2 linked regions of the Homo sapiens genome follow. The protein of the gene in region 1 purifies or fractionates together with the protein of each later gene. This does not show direct contact. Each region holds a gene or a part of one and is shown on either strand. Other genes may lie near its edges.

What was found.
Region 2: the proteins of WDR86 (region 1) and IPCEF1 purify together in Homo sapiens (affinity purification with mass spectrometry; 2 studies listed by BioGRID and IntAct, with this or other methods). This does not show direct contact.

Annotation. Positions count from the first base shown.
Region 1 is NC_000007.14:151,398,498-151,408,045, forward strand, and holds part of WDR86 (WD repeat-containing protein 86), read right to left. Parts: intron 1,745-9,548; coding exon 1,603-1,744; intron 1-1,602.
Region 2 is NC_000006.12:154,156,260-154,165,807, reverse strand, and holds part of IPCEF1 (interactor protein for cytohesin exchange factors 1), read left to right. Parts: intron 1-5,767; coding exon 5,768-5,980; 3' UTR 5,981-9,548. UniProt on the Homo sapiens protein: Enhances the promotion of guanine-nucleotide exchange by PSCD2 on ARF6 in a concentration-dependent manner.

The sequences.
Region 1 (9,548 bases):
GCGCACGTGTGTATGTGTAAGTTTGTGTATGAGTGTGTATGTATGTTGTGTATGCACGTGTATATGTGTAAGTTGTTTGTATGGTGTATGTGTATATGTATGTGTGCGCACGTGTGTATGTGTAAGTTTGTGTATGAGTGTGTATGTATGTTGTGTATGCACGTGTATATGTGTAAGTTGTGTGTATGGTGTATATGTATGTTGTGTGTGTGCGCACATGTGTATGTGTAAGTTGTGTGTGCACATGTGAGAGTAAATCTGGCCGAGCATGATTTCTACCTTTAATGTTCCAGTTTTGCTTTTGAGAAGCATCTGACAGTTGTGGGTTTGGCAGCTGAGGGCCCACTGGTCACTGCAGGCAGGCCTTCTCCCCGCTGAGCCCATTGCAGCCTCTGCCTGACTCACAGGAGGGCGCTCCCCCAGCCCTACTCTCTTCTTTCATGGCAAACTTCTTTCTCAGGGAAGTCAGAGTGCTGGGAAGAGGCCAGTGGAGCTGTGAGCCCTGAGTTCTCACTCTAGCCCCTTCTTTACCACCTTGTGGGCTGCCTGGGCAGGTCTCAGGGCCTCACCTGCTTCAGCTGAGGAAGGCCGGGGCCAGACGGCCACCCTACCTTGTGTCTGCATATACCCCCCATTCACTCTAAAAAGTCCCCGCATCCCTTCAGCCTCCTCCTCAGGGTGTCACCCAGCTCCCCGTCCATCGACTATCGATTATTATTCCTGGCTGCAGCCACCTGCGACTCCAGCGAGCTGGGCTGATGGGTCTCACTGCCTTTCCTGTCCCCCCATGCGCTGGTCCACTGACTGGGGGTTCCTGTCAGAGCTCAACCAACAGCATTCCTCTGGTGGGGTTCATCCTGTCTGGTCTGCGCCCCCAGCCCCACCTTCAGGACCCCCTCGTGCCAGCCTGCGCCAGCCCTGTCTTTACTTGGGTCACCCTCCAGGCAGCGCCCCTCCTCCAGTGCAGCTGCCAGGCCCAGGGGCGCCAGGAGGCCTCCCTCGGGAGTCCGAGGTGACCACCACAAGTGACTCCAACAGTGTCCAACTGATCTGATCAGCAAAGGAATTTCCATTGCTCAGCTCAGACCCAAATTCATTGAGAAAGGAACAATTCCAACCTTCTTGAGAAGGAGGGGCTGGGATATTTTCCACAGCTACAAAGAAAGGAGAGGCTTAAAAATATCCTCAACTCCGTCTTCGGAACAATCCCCCACACTCCTCCTCCTGCAAACCTTTGGTCCACCATCGGGTCTCAATTAAGCCATTTCCTATGGAATTTGTCCCCATCCCTACGAGCTGTAGGCTCTGGTGCTTTTCCCTGCACCCAGCGGGGAGCCACTGTGCCCCCAAGGGGGAAGCATCAGGCTCTGTTCAGTGGATGGGCAGTGCCTCCCTGCCCCACATGCAGCCGCAGGCACTGAGCTCGCTGCCTGTCCTGGGTCCACGTCGCTGGGTGCTACTGACCACCTCCCAGCTGTCCACGTTTTTGCTTCCCCAGAGAGCCAAGGGCCCTCACGTGCAGGGGCCCATATCTCTGACCCCTCAGCCCCACCAGAAGCCTATGTATGGTGAGACTCAGCCCAAGCCCCCAGCCAGGCTGACCTGTTCACGATGGACGTGTGTCCTCGGTACACCTGCAGACACTGCCCGGTCAGCACGTCCCACCTCCTGATGGTGCAGTCGGCGCTGCATGTGAAGGCAGCCTCATCCTCCAGCTGGCAGAAGGTCACATAGCTTTCATGTCCTGCAGATGAGGGACAGGGGAGATGTGAGCGTACTGGGGATGCCAGCTCCTGCTTTTCTTCTGGGAACAATGTTTGAAAAGGGAAGAAAGCAGGATGTAGGGAGTGTTTGAGACAAGCTGGAGTCAATTAGCATTAGTTTTGTTTTGTTTTGTTTTTTTGAGACAGAGTCTCACTCTGTCACAAGGCTGGAGTACAGTGGCGCGATCTGGGCTCACTGCAACCTCTGCCTCCCGGGTTCAAGTGATTCTCCTGCCTCAGCCTCCTGAGTAGCTGAGATTACAGGCGCATACCACTATACCTGGCTAATTCTTTGTATTTTTAGTAGAGATGGGGTTTCGCCATGTTAGTCAGGCTGGTCTCGAACTCCTGACCTCAAGTGATCTGCCTGCCTTGGCCTCCCAAAGTGCTGGAATTACAGGCGTGAGCCACTGCGCCCAGCCCTCAACTCATCCTTCTTAAAGAATGACTTCAGTCTGAGTGATTCTCAGAAAGCACGGGGTACCAGTGAGGCACGACAGATAGTCAGGGAAGTAACCATGTCCTCAGGACGCAGCAACCATGGCGACTGCGCCGTCAACACAATAAGCCCCAGCATTCGCACTGCAGGCAAGCTCATTCAAGCAAAGCTATCTTCAGTAGGGACTTTCCCCTGTAGAGAGCACGTGCACTTTGATTTTTACCGGTCCTCACAGTGACCCTTTGCTCATTACAATAGTAAAAAACACACCCCTGGATGGAGATTTAAGATGCCAGTGAGACATGTGACGTATGAACAGGGATGCACAGCCACTGTGCATGAGCACCCAGAACATGCTTCCCAGCAACCCCCTTGCCCACCTGCTCATGAATAATCAGGTAAGACTCCTAAAAAGGGATCCTCCCTCCAGCCGGTCTTTGCTCTCTCATCCTCACAGGCAGCCTACCCTGACTCCCCTCTTGGGGCGTCCTGCCTATTCTGCACCTAACTTTCAGGGTATTCTTCCTCCTGTGCAATACATTGCTCTATGCTGCATCTCCTTTGCTGTGTGTCTCCTGTTTCAATTCTGTTAAACTAAGAAGACAAGAACTGAGGTTTCACAGCAGCCATCAACAGCAGGAGCAATCCAGGGGCACTCGCCTGCACCCTAAACCCTCTGTTTCCTCAGCTTCCACTCTTGCCTTCCTCCCTCCTCTCCTTCCCTCCTCATTTCTTTATCATCTCCTTTTAGTCTTTTTCAAACCTTTCAGCTTTTGCATTCCACATTTCCTCACCTGGGATGGGGACAATGCCTGCCTCACGGGATGTAGCGCAGACTGAGGACAGAGGCAGCCGCAGAGGGAATGGCACATGTTCGCTATTTTCCTTACACTGGGGAGAGATACTGTGGTAGGCAGAATGACGGCCCCAAGACAGCAGGTCCTAATCCCTGGAACCTGTCAATGTGACCTTACTTGGAAAGGGGTCTTTGTGGATGTGACGAGGTAAAGACTTTGACTGGGGAGATTATCCTAGATTATCCGGGGGGTCCTAAATACAACCGCAAGTGGCCAGGCGCGGTGGCTCACGCCTGTAATTCCAGCACTTTGGGAGGCCGAGGCGGGTGGATCACAAGGTCAGGAGTTCAAGATCAGCCTGGCTAAGATGGTGAAACCCCGTCTCTACTAAAAATACAAAAAATTAGCCGGGCGTGGTGGTGGGCGCCTGTAATCCCAGCTACTCGGGAGGCTGAGGCAGAGAACTGCTTGAACCCGGAAGGCGGAGGCTGCAGTGAGCTGAGGTTGCACCACTGCACTCCAGCCTGGGTGACAGAGCAAAACTCTGCCTCAAAAAAAAAAAAAAAAAAAAAAAATATATATATATATATATATATCTCCACAAATGTCCTTACAAGAGAGAGGCCAGGGAGATGTGATATACTCGGAAGAGGAGGCCGTGAAGGTGAAGGCAGAGATGGATGTGGCCACGAGCGCAGGAATGCCAGCAGCCACTAGGGCTGGAAGAGGCCAGGAACCGACCGTTCCCTGCAGGGTTTAGATGTGGCCCTGCTGACACCCTGCTTTCATCCCAGGGACGCTCATTTCAGCCCTCTGGGTTCCAGCACTGTGAAGAATCAACTTCACTTGTTTCCAGGCACCAAGCATCCTCCTTTGTCACAGCAGCCCCAGGACACTAACATAGACACAGAGACAATGAAACACAGCCTTGCCCTCCAAGGGAGCTCCAGGCCCAGAAGGGAAGACAGTCAAGGGCAGCATGTGGTCAGCAGGGCTCGGCACCCCACTGGCAGCGGCTGGCTGGGGCTCGGGAGAGAAGCCTGAGCACTGGAGACCAGGAAGAGGGTGACTCGGTGCCCGTAGGGAGAACAGCGGCTAGGAAAGCAGGCGTGCAGGGACTGGCTCCATGGGGCACCTCCAGGCCAGAGTCTGAGTGATCGGTAGAGATGACTGATGAGGCCGGGATGTGGCCAGAATGGAGGGCCAAGAGTGGAGGGCCATGCCAGGGTGTCTGGGGTCTCAGCACCTGAGCTACCCCACCAGCTGGTTGGGACTCTATCTCATGGGTGCAGTTAGATAGCTTGACTATCACCCTGGCTGCCAGATCAATGTTTATGCCTCAGGCATTGCTTAGCAGCCCTGGGGGCCCTCAGGGTCTCTGATCTTAGTAGGGCCTGCCCTTCAGGTAAAGATGGTGTGTATACAGTTGTCCCCCAATATATACAGTTGCCCCCAATACCCATCAGGGATTAGTTCCAGGATCCCCTGCAGATACCAAACTCCACAACGCTCAGGTCCCTGTGGTGTAGTATTTGCCCATAACCTATGCAATCCTCCTGCATACTTCAGTTCATCTCTAGGTTACTTATGACACCCACTGCGATGGCTACACATCGCTTCACTTGTGTGGATTCAGTGTAGGACTTGGTGAGCAGGGAAGCCAAATTTTGCTTTTTGGAGCCTTGTGGAATTTTTTTTCCTGGATGTTTTTCATCTGTGGTTAGACGAACCCACAGGTGCAGAACGTGTTGGGCAGGAAGGCCCACTGGATTTGAGGAACTCGGGGACCAGGAAGTCAAATCAAAAGACTGTTAGAACTAAGAGCCATTTTACAGATGAGACAATGGACAAATTCAAACATCCACACATTTGGGGGACATACTTATTACATTAAGAATTTTGATAGAATTTTAAAATTTCATTTAGACAGCTGGTATTGGGTAGACAGGGATTTAGAATTTCCTGGGTAGTTTCAAGCCAATTCACATCCACCCCTTCCCCCGACCCCCTGAGTTTAAGTTCAGTTACTCTTGGAAAAACGCAACTTCCTGAGTTCTAAGAAACATAATTTAACAAAAAAGTTTTCCAGCCTCCCTGGAGGGCATATACCAGGCCGCTAAGAAAACAATGTACGGATTAAGTCAACATTTGAAGAAACTGCAGATTCTGTTTCCCTTAAAATACATGTCGGCTTAAACATTGAGGGCAATGTGTTTGTCAAAACGCAGGCTAGATTTTTGCCAACCCCAGAGGGTTTATAAAATATGTTAAGATTGTCAATAAACTTTCCCTGGGAACAGATCCGTCCCACCCTCCCTGCTGCCGCCAGGAGGGCTCAGCAGAGAGATTGCGGCTGGAGACACCCAAGATGGAAAGGTAATCAAGGTGTGCTGTGGGCATTCAGGTGCCAGGCACCTGCCTAAGGATCCTGTGGGGCCGATACCAAGCCCAGCTGCTCCCGACGCATCTCAGCCCCAGGAAGGTGAAGCGCAGCAGTGAGTCATATGTTAAGCCAAGAAAAGCACTTAAAAGCCAATGGCGGCTAGTGAGCTGTGGCATCTCTACCTGGTGGAACTGAAGCCTGAAGCCAGGGATGCTGAAGACCTGAAATGAGGGACCACTTTATGATGTGTGTAAGGAATAAAGGACATATACGCAGATGATGGCAAACTGATAAAAATGTAAATGCATACAAATATTGAAGAAAACAGGCAATGATGAAAGGAAGGTTTAAAAAAAAAACTCCATTTCTGAACTGGGCCAGGCTGCCCTGATGCCCTCTGCCCTCTGCCCTGTGGCAGAGCCTGGCACTGAGCCCACAGAGGCCCACAGCGTTCAGGGTTCTGCTGTGGACAGGCCTCTTCCCCTGGGTTTCTAAGCACTCACCCACATCTGAACACACGCCCAAGTGAGTCACGGGTCAGAGCCAGGCCAACAGAGCATGTCCCCAACCCCAACCCCTATGTTCCACAGAACACAAAACAGGCCTCCACTGACCCAGGCCTGCGGGGTCACCCTAGCGGGGAGGAGGCGGAACCAGGCCTGCCACCCCTGGAGCTGAGGCCCCCACCCCAACCCCGAGGACCCTAGGACAGAAGAGGGAAGGCATGGGGGTGGGCTCATCACACCTCCAGGGGCTGCAGTGATTGTGCAGAATAAGCAAAAAAGCCAAACTAAAAATAAATATTTCTGAAGGGATGAAGAATGCAGATAAGATGCAGTTATTATGTTCAAAGAACATGCTGAGGCTGACGGTTTTCTGCCAAGGTAGCGCCTGCACACCCTGGGGACTCGCTGGAAGTTTCAAGTCAAACTGCTTCCTCCCCCACCACCCCAATGCAGGAAAAGCAGCTCAGAGCTTCGGACCTGCTGGTGGCGGGTCTCTGCCGGCGGTGGGCTGCAGTGGGCCTGGTGCCCCTGACTTGCGTGGAAGCCGTGTCTCCCTTCCCTGTGTCCCAGCTTTAGACAACGGACTGGACAGCCACCCTGGAAGCCACACGGGGCAGGGATGGCACTGCTGACCTGGTTTGCTCCAGCCCTTGTAGCACAAGGGTTATTTTCACCTGTGGGGGAGGCCCCACTGAGCCTGCTGTCCAGGACTGAGCCTTCCTCTGCTCCCCAATCCCCCTCTTTTCCACCCTGCCACCGCCATCTGCATGGACTTCACAGTGGGCTCACTCTTATCTAAGACTCCCATTGGGTTAGAAAAGAGGGAGCCCACCGTGGGTTCCGACAAGTGGGAGCCGCAGCTGGAGACTCTAGGTCAGGATATGTTCCCCTCCCCCAGCTCCGACCCTGCAGGGCTCCCTCAGGCTGGCTGTGGCCATCCAACCTGGAAGGAAGCCCTCTCAGCTGTTTCCAGGATGCAGTGGCTGCGTCCCCGACTCAGGCCCAGAAGAGGTGACAGCCTTGCTGTTCCGAGCCACGGCCACTGTGGTTCCCTTATGCTCCACCTGCATTTTGCAGTGTCCCTTTATTAAACTCTCCTGGTAGAACCCAGTTTCGAGGGTGCTGGGACCCTGAGGCAGGTGACATCTGGGCCCAGAAGCACCAACAGCGTGGCTGGAATGGACACTGACGTGGCCACCAGAGACTTGTAGCAAATCTGCAAGCCCCCACTTTGAACCAAGACCTACGCAGCTTGGCTTTCTGGACTTCTCCGGTGGGAGCGGTCAGTTGCCCCCAAGCTGTGTGAGGCTGCTGTGGCTCTTGTCACCAGCGTGCCGCAGGCCTCCTTCAGCCCAGTCTTCTGGGCCACTGCTCTCCCGCCAGGCTTCACAGGGAGTCTCCTATGCCACCGGCTCCCAGCAAATGGGAATGTGGGGTTGTACCCAGGAAATTAACAACAATCCCCGCCCCCTCATGTTAGAAGACGAGGAAGCGTGTGGGACAGCCACAGTGGGCTGCCACCTTCAGGCTGAGTCCCCTACTCAACAGGAACAGGATAGGATAGGTACTACCATTTTGGAAAATGTCACTCATCTCATTGAACCAATAAAGTGCCCCCAAATAAGGAGATATTCAATGAATAAACCTGAAAAAGAGGAGGTCAGGGATAAGCAAGTGGCAAGTAATTCTTCTCTTTGCAGAGTAATTGCAATGAAGCCTTTTTCACTGTGAGCTCACCAACCGCATTTGAAAGGCAATTCCGTGTATGAACAAGTGAATGCACCCACAGGGAGGGGCTCCCCACACGCCGGTTCTGCAGCCCACTCTCCCTGGGGCCTCCGGGAGCAGCACCTCACCCACCAACCCCGCACGCCACAGGGAACGGCCTTCACTCTTCCTCTCCCTCTCACCCTTTGGCCCAAACTTTCCTAAGCTCTGCGAGACACCCAGGAAAGCCTGCGGTCCCTGATTGCCCCTGCTGCCATGAACAGAGCCAGAGGTCTCTAGAGGAAAAGCGTACGTAGGAGTCGCCAGCCCCAGCCACTCTGCTCGAGAAATCCAGGACCGGCCAACCACAGGCTCTTGTGGGCCCAGAGCTGTGCAAGGGCCAGGACGGAACCAAAGTGGAAAGAGATCTAGATTTAGAGTTAGGATGCTTCTAGGGATGGGGCCACCACAGACCAGCCATGTGGTCTGGACACAACTTCCCCCACAGTGGTAAGAGAAGCACCGTACAGTCTTCAGAAACCCTCTCTGCCATGGACCAGCTGCGGGACCCTGGACAAGTCCTGCCACCGCACCACGCCTCGAGGGATGTTGGCGACAGCACCCACCCCATTATCGATGGTATCTAGAAAACAACAAGAATGCCGTGTATGCTGCTCATGAGTCTGCACCTCCCCACTCTCCTCTGTGAACTGGTGTCAATCCCACCCACCTCAGAGTTGTGAGGATTCATTACACAATAAAAAAGCACAAAGATGTGTTATTTATAAAATATAGGGCACTAAACAAATGTTAAGACATTTTAATAATATTTCACTGATAGAAAAAAAAAATCCTGCAGGAGAAAGGAACTGGCAACACCTTGCTTTCTTTGGGGATCCACACAAAAGGACTGTCACACACTCACAATGACTCTTTTGCAAGTTGAGCGTATCAGTAGAATCTCAGGATAAAGAAAGATGACCTCTGTCCCCGTCCTTGAAAATTCCTGAAAATACCAACCCATATAACAGCAAAAACAATCCTAGCAAAATGGGCCACAGTTCTTTCATTCCAGTGTCCTGCTTGAGCGGGGATAGCCCTGCCCTCAATTAGGGCAGAAGGTTGGGCACCCTCCCTGGGAAGTGAGTGTCAGTACCTCAAGGGGACAAGCAGCCGTGAGGGTCACCAAAGTGGGTGTGAAGGAAGGAGGCACAGGTGCCAGACACAGAGCTGGGCAGGAGGGTGGGCCCTGGAGGCTTGGTGAGGCTCCAGAGCTGCCGTGGGGGCAAAGCCAAGTGCCCACCAGGCTACCGGCAGCCTGGCAAAGCCTGGGGCCTCACTGGGGAGAAACCCCACCTAATTGTGGGCTAAGCTGGGCTCCCACAACCCGTCCCCAGCCCAGGGGCTCCCGGGGCCAGCTGTGCATAAGACCCACCCAAAAGCTTGTTAGAAATGCCAATTCTAGGCCGGGTGCAGTGGCTCACACTTGTAATCTCAGCACTTCGGGAGGCCAAGGCGGGTGGATCACCTGAGGTCGGGAGTTCAAGACCAGCCTGGCCAACATGATGAAGCCCCACGTCTAATAAAAATACAAAAAAATTAGCTGGGCGTGGTGGCGAGCACCTGTAATCCCAGCTATTCAGGAGGCCAAGGCAGGAGAATCGCTTGAACCCGGGAGGCGGAGGTTGCAGTGAGCCAAGATCGTGCCACTGCACTCCAGCCTGGGCAACAAGAGCGAAACTCCATCTCAAAAAACAACAACAAGAAGAAATGCCAGTTCTACAGCCCTATTCATGGAGGACTGCATCACTGGAGCCCAGGCCTGGGGATCTGCATTTCTGAAACACCACCCACCCCTCTACCCCCAAGACAGTCTTATGTTTGGGAGCAATACCAACTGGACTTAACATTTCTAAAAGACCTCATATTTTCCATTCCTGGTTGAATGCCTAT
Region 2 (9,548 bases), on another chromosome or scaffold:
AGAGTGAGTGAGTGAGATGGGTTATAACCCAGTGGCAGCAATGACATCACATTACTTTTGCAGTATTCTATTCAGTAGAAGCAAGTCATTGGGTCATCTCATTTTCAGGGAGGAGATTACACAAGGCCTTGAATACCAGGAAGCAGAGAAGATTGGGGGCCCGCTCAGGGCTGCCTGCCCCACCCAGCTAGGGAACTGCTCTTTCTGGACATTTGTGAGAAGGAGCCCTTTCCATAGATCCCTCGTGCAGTGCTTGGGGCTGATGAAATAGAACAGGACCCATGTCATGCAGTCCTATTAATCTCAGGAGGTAGGAGGACATGCTGATGTGGAAATTGGTCTTGCTGAAGAAGCTGAACAAAAGCAAAGTGCATCAACCTATTCAAAGGAGAGAGAGAACTTGGTACATGTGTGCATGTTCATGTTGGAAGGGTATAATAATTATTTCTAATTGTTTTTAAAATTCAAAGCAGTCAAGAGAGTGGTTGTCTTTGAGGAAGAGGAGAGGATGGGACTGAGAGGGGATGTGAATGGAGCTTCTGAGTGCTGGGTGCGGGTCCTTCTGTGACCCTGGTAGTAGTGGTATGGAAGTGTTTATTTTGTGATAATTCTTTAAGCACAATTTTTCTATTTGTGCACTTTTCTCTGAGTATGATATATTGCACAGAGAATATATCATACACAGAGGAAATGTTTATGTTTTAAAAGCTCCAAAGTAGGAGTGTAGACAAGCAAAGACAACAGAGTTTCATGCAGAAACAAGGAAACTGTTTTAACAATAATGTTTATATTTGCCGCAGGTGCATTCCGTAAATAAGAAAAATCCCTGCACTGGGATAGTACTGGAATGAATGCACTTCAGGGAAATTCTTCTAGGAAGTTGAGCAAACTTCCAAGTTGAACTTGAGCAAAAGTTGATCGTATTATGTTGTACACTAAATACAGATATTTAGGAATTTCTAACAGCTCATCATTCACTGACTTTTGGCTAAGTCTGCTTTTATTTTAAAATAAGTTATTAATGGAATGATTAATGGGTCCAACTGAAACTCTCTCTGAGTTACTCTGACCTATGTCACAAGAGCGGTGAACCCTTTCTTCCCGTAGCTACTCTGGTGGAACACATTTCCAATGCTTAGGTCTTGAGTCGAGCCACACACTGACTATTTGGAGTAAAAACTGAAAGTACAGCATTCTCTCTTTCATGGTATTTTTGGAATCCCTGCCAAACCTTGCTTGCCTGCCAGAAAGCAGAGCGGATGTTGTGAAAGTAGTTCAAAGCCCTCCAAAAGCCTCATGCGCCATCCAGGAGAAGCTGGGCTGCTGGATGAGGCCCAGCCCCAGGATGCCTGGTGTAGGAAGGAGCTTGGAAGGTTCTGTTGTTTCATTAATTTCCTTCTTCTGTATTATTGTCTACATTTTTTTCTTTCATCCATAGAAGAACTAACACAGATTTGAGCCAAATGGTAAAAAATTTGAACTACTTAGAGCCAAAAGCCATATGAGAAGTGTCAGCTTAATGCCCAAAGTTGAAGAGACCCTGTTCTAAAAATTTTATTAGCTATAAAGAGGGGTTAATTCATGTATGCAAAGTCAGTTTCCCCAATTTTTATTAATTTTCAAAGATCTTATTTAATTTTTTAATATGAAAAATTAGGATCTTCCTTTGAAGTAGATGTCTAAATTTCTTTAGAACAAAATAAAACTCTTTAAATAACTTTACATTAATAGCAGTATGGTGATATCAGAGGAAGAAAGCTTTTGTTGTTGTTGTTGTTTTGGAAAAGTTGTTTTGGAAGCATAGATATTGAAAACTCAGAAAGAAGAAATATGCTCTTTTGGCCCTGCCTAACTTTCTATAAACAATCCCTCTGCTTTCCTACTGCACTGTTTTTTCTCCATTTTGGAAGGAAGGATTCCTATCTTTATCCATCTATATGTCTATCTTCTATCTATCTATCTATCTATTAATATCTATCTATCCAGCTATTGATCTATGAATCTATGTCTAGTTTTTTTGTTTAATGGAAAGGATTTCCTCAGACTCCAAATAGGGTTCAGAATGCAAAAGAGAATAAAAAGCAAATTGGTAATTCATTTATTCATTTATTTCTTATTTTATATATTCATTTTTTCAACAAGTATTCAACGAATGTCTACATGTGTAAACAGTCTACATGTGCAGTCATTCTTTCAGGCACTTGGGGCTATAGCACTGGGCATGTCAGATAAAAAGGCCTGCCTTCCGGAAGCTTATGTTTTAGTAGGAGAATAAACAAACATAATTGACTATTAAATGTATAATATGATAAGTGATGATAGATTTGATAAAGAATAGAAAAGGGGATAGAACATGTTGAGGAATTGATATTTAATTAGGAAGGACATGAAAGGCCTCTTTGAAAGACATAATTTGTGTAAAATCTGAAAAAGGAAAGGGAATGAGGCTTGAGGTTCTCTGAGGCCGAATATTTCAGGCAAAAGGAACAAAAACACAAACACCTTGGGGCGGGAGTGTGCCTAGGGCATTTAAGGAAGAGCAAGGAGGTCAAGGTAGCTGTAATGTAGTGGGGATGGAGCATGGGGAGTGCAGCAGTGGGCTGGAGGGGCAGCAGGGACTCGAGCCATTGAGGATCTCATTGCCATTGCAAACACCAGCTTCTGCTCGGAGTAAGACAGTGACCCTCTGGAAGGTTCTGAACAGAAGGATGGCATGCTTTGTGTCATGTCTGAAGGTAGAACCATCAGCCTTTGCTGGTGGATTGGGTGTGGTAGAAGGAGTCAAGAATGACTCCAGTGTTTGCTCTGAGCAACTGGAAAGACGGAGTTACCATTAAGTGCTTTGTGGAAGACTACGGTAGGAACCGGGTTTGGTGTGCATTGGAAGTTGGTGGGGTGGGGATGTAGAGAATAAGAGGAACTTATCTTTAGATATGTTATTTTTGAGATGCCTCTTAGGGGTTGATGTGGAACTGCTGAAGAGGAAGTTTAGACAAATGATGATGGAGTCCAGGGAAGAAGTAAGGAGAGATATAAACTTGGGACCCTCAGCACATAGGAGAGTGGGAGAGATTTCTTGTGATTACCAACAGCATGAACATAGATAGAGCAGAGAACAGGATACAAGCTGGGGCTTTAGAACACTCCAGTGAGAAGAGGTGGCGTGACAAGGAGGAATCAGCAACTAAGGTGGGAGTAAGTAGCAATTGTGGTACAAGAAAAATCAGGAGAATGTATCATAGGAGCACAACAATGAAACTGTTCAAGAAGGAGGAGTAGTCAATTGTTTTAGGTGCTGCTGATAAATAAGTTGAAGATGGATCATTGGTTTAACATTGATTTAATGGTTTATTGGATTTAACAACATGGAGGTCACTGATGGTCTTCACAAGAGCAGTTTTGGTGAATGGTGGGGGCCAAACCCTGATGGGACTGAATCTATGCAGAATGGGCCACTGGAGACAGGAAAAAGTAGAGCATTAGCTGGACAGGGATTTGGGGGCAGAGAGGAATTTTAACATGCAAGAAATAACAGCAAACATGTGTACCAGTGAGACTGCTGGAGGGGATCTGGAAAGTTGGTGAGTCAGAGGAGAGAACAGAATTGCTGGGATGAATTTCTTGAGTAGGAGAGCGGGGGCCATTGTGCCCAAGTGGAGGGATTGGCCTTTACTAGGAGCACAGATGCTCCATCTCTGTGAACAGGGCAGAAGGCAGCATAGATTTGCATCCATGTAGTTCGTGGGCAATAGGAACTTGGGAGAAGTGCTCTTCTGATGGCTTCCATTTCCTCAACAAAGAGATAGCAAGGCCATCAGCTGCGAGTGAGGATGAGAGAGGGGGTTTGAGATGAGAAGAGTTTTGAAATAGTCATTTGGGAGACTGCCAGAAAAAGGATGTGAAAATGTGATGACTGGAGAGTAGTGAAAATCCACTTACTGGCAGTGGTTGTGAAGTTTTAGTTTCACACATGCTGTCCTGGGGATAGTCAAAAAGAGTAGTTCAATCACATGCATGAATTGAATGTCTACATGGCACTTGGCATTGCGTTAGGTGCAGGGAATACAGGGATGAAGGAAATGTTTCTTGTCATCTTCTTTAAGCTTTAGAAGAGGGGCCATGACTTACCCGTAAATACCTAAATGTACCTCGGTAAGTTCTCAGAGGGCATCATTGGAAGGCATGAGAACATAAAAACTTAAAAGCTTATCAGTCCAATTTTGGGAGTGCAGGGAAGGTTTCCTGGACAATGTGATGCCTCAAGTATAGATTTACGGGTTTTGAAAAATTGGGTAGGCCAGGTGCAGTGGCTCACGCCTGTAATCCCAGCACTTTGGGAGGCTGAGGTGGGTGTATCACTTGAGGTTTAAGGAGTTTGAGACCAGCTTGGTCAACATGGCGAAACCCCATCTCTACTAAAAATAGAAAAATTAGCCAGGCATGGTGGTGCATGCCTGTAATCCCAGCTACTTGGGAGGTTGATGCAGGAGAATCGCTTGAACCTGGGAGGCAGAGCTTGCAGTGAGCTGAGATTGGGCCACTGCACTCCAGCCTGGGCAACAGAGTGACTCTGTCTCAAAAAAAAAAAAAAATGAAAAGAAAAGAAAAAAATTGGGTAAAGAAAGACTGGAAAGTGTTCTGTGTAAAAGAAACTCTAGAAATTAGAGTTTATGAGGTGAAGAAAGGCAAGGAAGATTCTTCATGTGGCACAACAACACGGAGGTGTGAGCTAGTGTTGTGTGGGTGAGAAAATGCATGCCAGTACATTAGACTGGGAAGTCAAAAGGAAGCAGAGTATCAACAAATGGTGCCAGTGCAGGTGAGGAGCCTTGGGTGTAAGGGGATCCATGAGGGGGACTCGGCATTTACATGCATCCCTGCTCTGCTAAGTGGAGGTGGAGTTGAAGTGGGCATTGGAGGCAGTGGTCTCGCTCAGGAGGCTGTGGCAGCAGATCAAACGTGATATATTGAACTGGATATCCAACCTTAGGATTATGGTCATGGGATGGAGAAAACAGGCATAGATTTGAGATACAATTGTCAGGGCTGAATATTTGTTTTTAATATGGAGGATGAACATCTTATTTATACTCCATTCCTTGTCTATAGAAAACTCTAACCTGAGCTAGACATTTCAGAAATGTGTGCCATTGGTTACAGAGGAGGCAGAATGGAATAGCACCAATAGGTTGTTTATTAGCATTATTGGAATACATACTGTTTTGATGGAAGGTTAGTAGCCTCTTCTTTGACTGAAAAGATAATCTGTGTATTTATTCTGTATTAAATAAATGTGATTTATTAAAAATAAAGATAATTTAATAAAATCTTAAAAGACATATTTTATGTTGCCATATGTCCTAGGTAAAGTGTTACGTTCCAATTTTACTTAGTGAAGTTTGGATTGTCAATAAAATGCTAATACCTACAATGGTAAGTTTTAGGAGGCATGATTCCCACACCAAGGTAGAATTGTTACTGTGGTGTGGAATAATGGATTGATCAGGGAAAGGCAACATAGAAGATCTTTGCTATATGTCTAGCTCTTCCACTAACTCTTGGGTAGGATACTTCACTTCTTTGCGGCTAGCGTATGCAAACAAATGTCGTATTTCTTAAGCTTAATGCTGGAATTAGAACATTAACGTGCAAAAATGCTTTGGTAATTTTATGTATATGTGTACTTGTAAAAGAGTTGGTAAAGATGGTTTATGTAAATTAAGACACTCTCAACATACCCCCTTCCCCTTTTTTTCTACTCACACAGTGTAAAGAACATGATCTGGCCATGATTAACCAGTTGCTGGATGACCCGAAGCTGACAGCCAGGAAATACAGAGAGTGGAAAGTCATGAACACCCTGCTGATCCAGGACATCTATCAGCAGCAGCGGGCTTCGCCTGCCCCTGATGACACTGATGACACCCCCCAGGAACTCAAGAAATCACCTTCTTCTCCCTCTGTTGAAAATTCCATTTGAGACAAAGTCAGGGTTTTCTCCTCTTATATTTTATCACAAGCAACTCTTCAAGATGTTGCAAAAGCTTACATTTTTCCTTAAAAGGAAAACTGAAACCCAGTCCTTCAAGCATCAGCTTCCCATCTAAAGATGCACGTTAGATGAAGATAATCACCGAATACACCAGGGCTCCTCATTTCAGTCGTAACGCATCCATTGAGATTGGAATGATTGAGTTCAGTTGAAAGGCGTTTTTTGTGTTCCTACTGGGAGCTCACGGTGATGTGGGGCTCTAGGGGGGATGTGAGAAATGTCTCTTCTGTTCATTGCTCTCCAGAGAATGCTATGGACAAGAATCAAATTTTACCAGGAGTAATTGCCCATGGAAACATTCTGTTTTTCAAAAGAAGAATGTACATATTCCACTTGACTGGGAAGCTGTGTGGCCCAAATCACTGTTTGAGTGGAGGAATGTTTTCTAGAGCAGTGACTGGAAGGACAAACGTGGTGTTGCAGAACAAAAATTCCTTGCCTTTGGTATGGAATGGTGGTGCCTTTTCCATGTGATGAGAAATGCTTCATAGACAGTGGCATGTGGGAGAGCTGAAGGAGGAGGCGTGTTCCATATTCCACTCATTCAAAGGACAGCTTGGTGTTTTCACACTTTATGCAGGTTAGGGGATCTGATTAATGTTTCCTTTCCTTACAACAGCTAGAGAAAACATCTCATCACAATTGGAGACCTCTACTTCCTTTGAGCTTTCCTACTCAATGGTAGGAGATAGGAATATGTTCCGCAAAGAATGTCTACTGCTCTTGTCCTTGGCTGTGATCCCTATACATAGTGTGAATTTATATCCAGGTTTCCCAGGATCAATATTGACAAGACGACTTTGGCATCTGAATTGTTTTAATATCTTTACTCAAAAAAACAAAAAAACAAAAACCCATGGAAGCAACAAAAGAGTTAAACATGAGGGATTTATTTTTGTATGTTTATATGTCACTTGTGTGCTATGTGAATAGCTATGTTTGTTATTTAAATATATTTATAGAAGTTCAAATTACTAGTGTTTAAAAGATGATATACTATTATATATTGTGCTTAGTATATATTTGATGAGTCTATACTTTTTGCTTGAGAAAAATAGAAATACTATTGATTCACTGGTGTTATGATGTTGCACTGTGTCTGAGGAATGCTCAGGAAATCTTGTGGGAAAAAAATGGGGCATGCATTCATAATTTTTCATTTTCTTCCCCACCCCAACCCCCATGAGCTCTTAAATTTAGATTTCTATCTCTTGTAAGTCACTCTTTTAACCAGCAAAGGACTTTCATCTTAGATTATCCTTTCTATTAAATAAACTTTAAGCTTTGTGCCATTTATGCCTGCAAACCTTAGACCAAAGGCAACACAACTAATGTCATCTTTTCATTAAAGACTAATAGAAATTTAGAAATCATTGTGTTAAAGAGAGCTATAGAGAAACAATATGAAAGTCTTCCCTTACTAATCACCATGAATATTTCTCACCATAGGAATAACCACAACCCACCAAGTACCCATGTTGGCCCTGCCTACCCGTAACAAATTGTTCACACAACCTATTTTGTTTTATAGCTTCAAAGTGTGGCTTGACATTCAAATGGAAGGAACCACCTGAATTATATCTGCAAACAAAATGGAAATAGTTGTTGAATAGTTCCCCAAGCTTTACTAAGAAGCCTTAATACTCTGTAAACAAACAAACAAACAAAAAACAACCTTAGCATTAAGAAATAAAAACAAAAAACAAGAAGCAAGTTGTACTGCTAGAAACTTCTCTAAGATAAGAGGCCAGGCCAGTCAGTTTGGCCCAGCAAACATGTGGGTACTTCTCCACCTAGGGAAGCCACTGAAGATGAGTTTGACCTGTGGTGACCTGACAGAGAGAACATTCAGATCCTCAGATTGCACCCTGATGCCCTGGTTTAGGAAAGCAGTGCTTTAACCTTTTGCCCCTGGAAATTACTGATTCTTTCTGTGATTAGCAGATACCAGAAGGGAAATTATTTAGGATTGGCAATGTAAAGAGTATTGAAGGAACAACAAATAACAATAGCAGAAATAACAGTGTGACATAAAGTGCCCTTCCACCTATTTTTCTTTGGTTTGCAACACCAGCCTGTAGACTTCCAGTTTTTCTTAAATTGAAGAGCTCCAGACACTTTTGAGCAGGGTTTGTGAATAGCTTTGAATGCTTTCCTTTGGCTTTTCGTGAAGACATATTTCCCCAGCCTTTCAACTGTAAACTCCTTTAGTACCATTGAAACTTAAGGCAAAAAAGATCCCTGGGATTACTTAGCCAAGGCTTAAATTTATTTTTCAAAGTCAAGAACATTAGCCTAGAAGTTTTTGCTTTGCTAGTTAAAGCTTACTTTGCAGAGCTTCCCAAAGTGAAAGGGAAACTGAACTTCACAATTTTGCACCTGGCTTTCTGGAGCCCCATTGCCTGCTCATTCGTGTTTTTCCCCCTGTAAATTATTTTGCTTTTGACCAGGTTGTGCTAGAAAGTAGGGCTGCTTCTGTGAGTTCTCAGCCTAGGCTGTGGCCACTAAGACGTGGGTGGGGGGATAGACAGGAGTGAGAGGGAGAGTGGGTGACACTTTCCGTGACACTTAATGTAGGAAGACATGGGCTTCTCTCTCTTGGCCTCAAGCCACTTTTCTGGTCCAAAGAATATTGGGAAAACTGGATTACTTTCAGTATATTTCTTGAGACCGGGTCATCTCTGAAATGCATTTGGGGTAGTTTCCTGGGGTCCAAGGGCCAATTCCTATACCCAGTCCTGCAGTGTCTGTGAGCTGTGGAATGAGAGAGAAAACCATGGCTGCTCAGGAAGGAAGTGGAGAATCTCTCAGCACACGTAGATCCAAATCTGTGGCACCTGCTAAAGATTAGGATTTGGAGAGGACTCCTCTTTGGGGTTGTGAAGAGGACCTTTTCCCTCTGTTGTTAGCCTGTAGATCCAGAACGGAGCCTGATGTGATGCCTTCACTGGTTGATATATTGCAAATAGACACTCTGAGCCCTGCATTGCAAGGGCGTCTTTTGCTTTAAAGAATTCTTAGTTTTGCCACAACAGCTCAAATCTCAGAATAGGATCAAAGGCCTAGAAAGACTCCTAAAGTATAGGATTACAAAGACTCCAGGAAGCGTAAGAAAGAGATTGTGTTTGGAGTCAGATTTCAATGTGAAACCCATGCCTTACATTTACACAGCACTTTGTAGTTTGCAAATTGGTGTGTTTTCAGCCCCCTCCCGCTGCCCCATGCTCTGAGATGATTGTGGATTATTACAGTGAAGTGCCTGGCCCGGAGCCCCCAGTGATGAAGCAGGAACTTGAGTCTCAGGACTCCCAGCGGCTCTCTGCCCATTTCCTCCTCTCCGCCCCCCACCTCGCTTCACCTGTTACCTTGTGAAGTTGCTGTTGGCACATAGCCCACTAGGAAACCAAGAAGTTTGACTGGGAGCGTGTGTTTCATTGCACTGGGCTTAGCATACGGCTGGCCCTGGTGGCTGTTTGGCTAAATTCTCCATTTGAAA